Homo sapiens: one gene and its partner. The protein of the gene in region 1 purifies or fractionates together with the protein of each later gene. This does not show direct contact. Each region holds a gene or a part of one and is shown in the gene's direction. Other genes may lie near its edges.

Evidence for each region.
Region 2: the proteins of MCUR1 (region 1) and NCR3LG1 purify together in Homo sapiens (co-immunoprecipitation; one large-scale study listed by IntAct). This does not show direct contact.

What each region holds. Positions count from the first base shown.
Region 1 is NC_000006.12:13,797,558-13,801,057, reverse strand, and holds part of MCUR1 (mitochondrial calcium uniporter regulator 1), read left to right. Parts: intron 1-675; coding exon 676-717; intron 718-2,153; coding exon 2,154-2,225; intron 2,226-3,500. UniProt on the Homo sapiens protein: Key regulator of mitochondrial calcium uniporter (MCU) required for calcium entry into mitochondrion. Plays a direct role in uniporter-mediated calcium uptake via a direct interaction with MCU.
Region 2 is NC_000011.10:17,368,800-17,372,299, forward strand, and holds part of NCR3LG1 (natural cytotoxicity triggering receptor 3 ligand 1 precursor), read left to right. Parts: intron 1-67; coding exon 68-165; intron 166-3,206; coding exon 3,207-3,500. UniProt on the Homo sapiens protein: Triggers NCR3-dependent natural killer cell activation.

The sequences.
Region 1 (3,500 bases):
ACTAGTTTCGCCTATTCTAGAACCATTTGATGGTATCATACTGTGTGTCTTGTAGCAAGAGATCATTTTTTTCATTGTCTATAGTCTTAACATCAATAGGCCCCATCATTTTATTGTAATGTGTATTAGAATTGTTTCCAGTTTTTGGTTATTTTGAATAATTGCTACTGCGAAATATCTCTTGTGTTTCTTTAAACAGAGCATATGGGATCAGCATTTAAATAAGTGCTGTCTATGCATTTTCCTTTTATTTTCGGTCCTATTTAAAGTCCCATAATAGGGAAGGCCATTTATTGCCTGTTGACCCTAGCCTTGTAAGAAACCTTCTAGCAAAAAGTAAAGTGGTAAAGTTTCAGACTCTCTAGGTTGTTCTTGAAATCAGTTATTTGAGGGTAGGATTAGTTAAAAGATAAACCGAAGGAGATACTAAATAAAGCAGGGTCACTGAAGGCAAATGTGTATGCCAAACACAACTGAGTTAACTTTACATAGCCTTCAAGATGAATTCAAACTGATTTCAAGATACGTGTGTTGTAATGCCATTCTGCAATCAATACGGTGTTCTGAATGAAGGAAAAACCTGAGGAACTTGTGCATAAATATGTATTGTAATATTTGTTGGTTACTACGTTTTATGTTGTTCTTTCTAATGACTTTTTTTTTATGTGTTTTTAGAAAATAAAACTCGAACTACATCAGTTAAAACAACAAGTAATGGTAAGATTCACTTTCCTGTTTGTTGGCTGGTTTGTAATTATATAAACTTATTAATAAGTATAATATTAGAAATGGATGTTTTTAAAAACTTAATTCTTTGTGAAATGTTTGTGTAATATGCCTCAAAAGTACACATTGGAAGATTTAGCTAAGAACACAGCCAATGAATGAATTACTGTTGTCTGTAACCATATTCATTAAGAAAATTGTGGCCAGGCATGGTGGCTCATGCCTGTAATCCCAGCACTTTGGGAGGCCGAGGTGGGTGGATCACCTGAGGTCAGGAGTTCAGACCAGCTTGGCCAACATAGTGAAACCCTGTCTCTACTAAAAATACAAAAATTAAGTGGGCATGGTGGCAGGTGCCTGTAATCCCAGCTACTTGGGAGACTGAGGCAGGAGAATCACTTGAACCCAGGAAGCAGAGGTTGCAGTGAGCCGAGATTGCGCCATTGCACTCCAGCCGTGGTAACAAGAACGAAACTGTCTCAAAAAAAAAAAAAAAAAAAAAAAGAAAATTGTGTTCTAGGAGGAATTAAGTCATTTTTAAGTAAAAGTTTTTCTAAAGTGCTGCACGGAAGGAACCCTTAAATTCTCTTAGACTGTCTTTAGAGAATCACACGTGATTTTTAAATGCTTACTGTGCCAGCTATTTAATGTTTTTTAAATAGAAAAAACATAGATGTTAAAGAAAAAAAGGCTTTGATATGTATCAGAGAAAAGGCTCTATGTAAACTGGATTTTAATATTTTGCTGCTTTGAGTCCATCTTTGCTTTCCAAAGTTGTTTAAGATCAGCTTTATTCATAAGTTCCATTCGGAGATTGTATGAGGAGTCTTGAGGTTAAAAGCAGCAACAGGCCGGGCGCGATGGCTCACGCCAGTACTCCCAGCACTTTGGGAGGCTGAGGTGGGTAGATCACAAGGTCAGGAGTTCAACACCAGCCTGACCAACATGGTGAAACCCCATCTCTACTAAACATACAAAAATTAGCCAGACGTGGTGGCATGCACCTATAATCCCAGCTACTCAGGAGGCTGGTACAGGAGAATTGCTTGAACGCAGGAGGCAGAAGTTGCGTGAGCAGAGATCACCCCATTGCACTCCAGCCTGGTTGACAGAGTGAGACTCCATCTCAAAAAAAAAAAAAAAATGGCAGCAACAACCCACTCTAGACTGGCATAAGCATAGAAGGGGGTTATTTGTGTCTAACTGGGAAGTCCTGGGACAGGCTGCCTCCAGATGTGGCTTGGCCAGAGTTCCCTGATGCCAGGAGGCCTAGGTCCATTTCTCTGGAAGCCCCTGGCTCTCTCCCTCCCTGGGTTGCCTCGCCTAGGATAGGGACAGTGGGGGCAGTGGTCCCAGTGTCACGTCCTCATAGAGTTTGGGTTTCTTACTTTGGATTTTTCCTTCTTTGTTGTTTGCCCTCCTTTTAGGATGAAGTGATCAAAGTCCGAACAGATACCAAATTAGACTTCAACCTAGAAAAGAGCAGAGTAAAAGAATTGGTACGTTCCTTTACTAAAAACACATTATGAATTAATTTATTTTTGGAATGGAATGCTTGGTTAAGCCTAAGTTTATGTACATGTCATAGGTACTGTTAAATATTTATCTGTTTATCAGTGTTAGGCTGTATTTTCTCTATTATAATAATTTTGGATTAAGACTTAAATTTGTTGCTTTCAAAAGTAACATTAAAATTAAACTCCTAGTCAAATTAGTCAGTTTGAATATTTGTTTCAGAAATATTAGAGATATGTTACATAGAGATTCATAAAGAAATTAAATGCAATCTTGATCTATTTAATACTGACTTAAATCTTCATAGGTCTTGATCTTGTAAAAGTTAAGTTGATTATTTCAGGCTTGAATAATAGTAAATTATTAACATTAAATAATATTAAATTATATACTGGAATTCAAGATTAAAACATTTCTGGCCGGGCGCGGTAGCTCACGCCTGTAATCCCACTACTTTGGGAGGCCAAGATGGGCAGATCACCTAAGGTCAGGAGTTCGAGGCAGCGTGCCTGCCCAACATGGTGAAACCCTGTCTGTACTAAAAATACAAAAAATAAGCCGGGCATGGTGGCGGGCACCTGTAATCCCAGCTACTCGGGAGGCTGAGGCAGGAGAATCGCTTGAACCCAGGAGGCAGAGGTTGCAGTGAGCTGAGATTGTGCCACTGCTCTCTAGCCTGGGTGACAAGAGCAAAACTCCATCTCAAAAAAAAAAAGAAAATTTCTATGTTGTCTTTTAAGTGCAGTGAGAAGTTGTGAGGGTATTTTGTTTTGTTTTCTATTTTTGTTTTTTTTGAGACAGAGTCTCAGTGTGTTGCCGAGGCCGGAGTGCAGTGGCACCGTGTCTGCCCACTGCAACCTCCGTCTCCTGGGTTTAAGCAATTCTCCTGCCTCAGCCTCCCGAGTAGCTGGGATTACAGACGCCACCACCACACCTGGCTAGTTTTTATATTTTTAGTAGAGACAGGGTTTCACCATGTTGGCCAGGCTGGTCTCAAACTCCTAACCTCAAGTGATCTGCCCACCTTGTCCTCCTAAAGTGCTGGGATCACTGGAGTGAGCCACTGCGCCTGGCCGGCAAGTGTGTTTTTTTTTTCTTTGTTTTTGTTTGAGGCGGAGTCTCGCTCTGTCACCCAGGCTGGAGTGCAGTGGTGTGATCTCAGCTCACTGCAAGCTTCGCCTCCCGGGTTCACGTCATTCTCCTGCCTCAGCCTCCAGAGTAGCTGGGACTACAGGCCCCTGCCACCACGCCCAGCTAAT
Region 2 (3,500 bases), on another chromosome or scaffold:
CAGTTGTGTGGTTTCTCTGGCCCTTGCCAGTAGGTTTCCTGCTAATGTTTTCCTTCTCTCTCTGCAGAAACTGAGAAGACAGATAATTTTTCCATTCATTGGTGGCCTATTTCATTCATTGGTGTTGGACTGGTTTTATTAATTGTTTTGATTCCTTGGAAAAAGGTAAGGGGCTCCAAAGCAAAGTTCAGCCCTGTGTCTTGGGCTAGTAAAAAGCTTTTAGAGCAGCTGCTGCCAACCTTACAAGCCTCAAGGGACAGGCCTGCTGGAAAGGACTTTGTCAGTCCCTCTTCACCATCAGGTGTTGGGAATGTTGGCTGTGTTCCAATCCAGTTTCCTATCACAGAGGACCTAGCTGTCACATACCATCTGACCTCTGTATGGTGGTTTGTGACTCTGGGGTGATGTGTTGTAAAGCCTCCCTCTCTTTCTCCATACTAAACAAGTATTATATCTCTGTGAATGAACCAGACTTTAGTGTTCAGACCAGGCCCTGAACTATGTGTGGACTGCTTGTTTTTCTCACACATTTAGAAACTATGGCTTAGAGAGGGGAATTCCTCATATTTTATCTGATCAATAACTGACCACCAGATCTCACTAGTTTGACTAAGAATTTCTAACCCTCACTAGGTATTTCTAAACTAAAACATGTTTCTAAACATTTTTATCCCTGACTATGGCCCAAATAGTAAATAAAACAGCTCAAGCTTTAGAGGCCCAAGAGACCTATGTAAATGTGTTGGTTAAAATAGTTTTAGATAATAAAAGGGCCCTCAATTATTTATGGGCCTGTCAAGGCAAAATCTGCACAACAGCCAGTACATCTCATTATAAATAATTTAGGAGAAGTGGAATAATCAGTCAATTAAGAAAAATGGCCCTTTATCTAAAGTTGGCCATTTAGATTCACGGGACTTATTCCTGTTGGATCTAGGCCATGAGAAAACTGGATAAAAAGTGGTTTTCAAATGTTTCTTGTGGTATTTGTGACTGTTGTCATATTTCTTGCCTTTCTCTGGTTCTGATATTCAGGTGCTATTGAGAGAGGAGGAAGGAAGAAACTAGTCAGGCAGGCAGTTAGGGTGGGCCCTCAGTCAAATTCCTTCAAACAAAAGAACAGCCTGAAAAATCAAACTGCAGATAAGGGAACTTGTACAGGGGGGCTTGCCTAAAACATGCCCACAGCCACATACATTAAAACAAGGCTACACAGGAGACTTGCCTAGACATGCTCACAATAGAAAATTCCATCCCCTGACACATGCACAGTAAGGGGAACAAAGCCACATGGAGTAACTCAAGCTAAGGGCTTGCATGCACACTACGAGGATGGGGTGGAGCTACCAGAAATGTGTGCCTTATGCCTTTGTATTCAGCTGTGAAATGGCAACCCTCTTTTGGGCCCCCTCTCTGCAGTGGAGTGCTTTCTTCTTTTGCTTATTAAACTTTCACTTCAACTTCATCTTTGGGGTCCGCGCTCCTTAATTTTCTTGGTCATGAGACAAAGAACTTCAGGTGATACCTTGGGCAATGAGAGACTGCTACATTGTGGTGCATTGACGAGACTAACATTTTGGTGCATTGGCCAGGAAACATTGGAAGGGTGAGTAGGAGCGGACCTCCAAACTCTTTACTTTCATTTCAGAGGCTTCTTGTCCTCAGATTTTTTCCTGAAGACTGAACAAAACACTGGGCCAGTTAAAAGCTTTTAGAGCGGCTGCCAACCTTATGAGACTTAAGATACAGGCTTGCTGGAGAGGACTTTGTCAGTCCCCCTTCACCCTCAGGTGTTGGGAATGTTGGCTCTGTTCTAATCCAGTTTCCTTTCACAGAGGACTTAGCTGTCACATGGGCTAGAAGGAGGTCCTGGGGCAACTGAAGGTTTCTGTTTGAGGCTACTCCTCAGTGTTACCTGAAGGTCCCTGGACTAACTCCAGCCCCCGACAGCCCGTCAGAATGTTGGCACCAGGACTTCCAGACTTTTCTATTGCATTTTCTTCCTTGCTTTTCGCAGCTACTATGTCTCCTATTCCTTCTTTGTATGCAATGTTGTGGGTGTCTTTATAGCCTGGGGAGATAATCCTGTTAAGCAAAGTCAGCAAGTGCCTTAGTAACGAGGAATGTAACTCAAATAATTGTTGTTTTTGTGATTTCCTTGAGACAGGGGGACTTCAAGATTTCAGCCTAAATTTTCACTTAGGGCCTTTTTGTCCCCCAGTGATAGACATTCATGGCACTCTATAGGGGGATGTTTCACCCCAAGTGAATACCCTTTTCTCCATCAGGTTGTTTTTCCTTCATGTAAGAGCTCAGCATTGCCCAATGAATTTAAGCATTCCCTCTATGAGACAAACTAGTTTTTTTTCTACTGGACAGCATATTATGGGGACAGCCTATTAAGCCCCAAACCTCCCTTTCTGACCTCTGCTTGGAAAGAATTTGTAGTCAGAGTTTTTTCCTAACATTTCAAACCCTATAGTGCTACCTAGTGGGATGGGATTTTTCTCTGTGAGAAGCCTTGTCAGCCCTTTGCCCAAAACCTCTAGTTCCCTGATTCCTTTCTCTCTTATGTCCCTCTTTCAGTGATCAGGCCCCATGCCCTATTTGTAAGCATAAAAACTCCTCTTTCAACAGCCAGGAAGAAGCTACCCTGGGAAGACATATTTTAGCCTCAGTGTTATCCCCATTGGAGGGAGAACAGCCATTCAATTTTTACATTCTTTTGAGGCATCTGTTCTGTACACAGCTACACTGGCATCTAAGTGAGAAAGGGATCTTGTGTTTAGAAATCAATCAGTCTCATTCTCTAGGAATTCATAACTTTGCCAGGGTGGTAGTAAGAGGATGTAAGGATAGAGTTAAGATGTTCCCTTCCTTAAAGGGTCTTGCCCCAATCCAACTACTGCACAATCTCTCCCATGGTTCTAGGGAATCTCAGGAGCCTTATGGGCCAAGTAGGTCTAGGAAACCAGCAGGGCAGAGAGCTAGGACCTTGTGCAGGTGAGCACAAGCTAGCTCCTCCGGATTCATGGGTGAAGGTCATGCTTTGATCCATGGGCAGCACCTATAATGGTCACCAGGAACCTGAGGAAATGGGAGGGAAGAGGAGAAGGGGGACGCCCCTTCCATTTTTCTCTCTGCTGTCGATCACTCCAGAAGGACAAAGGAGACTAAGGGATGCCTTTTCTCTCCTCTTTTTCTAGATATGTAACAAATCATCTTCAGCCTATACTCCTCTCAAGTGCATTCTGAAACACTGGAACTCCTTTGACACTCAGACTCTGAAGAAAGAGCACCTCATATTCTTTTGCACTCGGGCATGGCCGTCTTACCAGCTGCAGGATGGGGAGGCTTGGCCTCCTGAGGGAAGTGTTAATATTAATACTATTCAACAACTAGATGTTTTCTGCAGACAGGAGGGCAAATGGTCCGAGGTTCCTTATGTGCAAGCCTTCTTTGCCTTGCGAGACAACCCAGATCTTTGTCAGTGTTGTAGA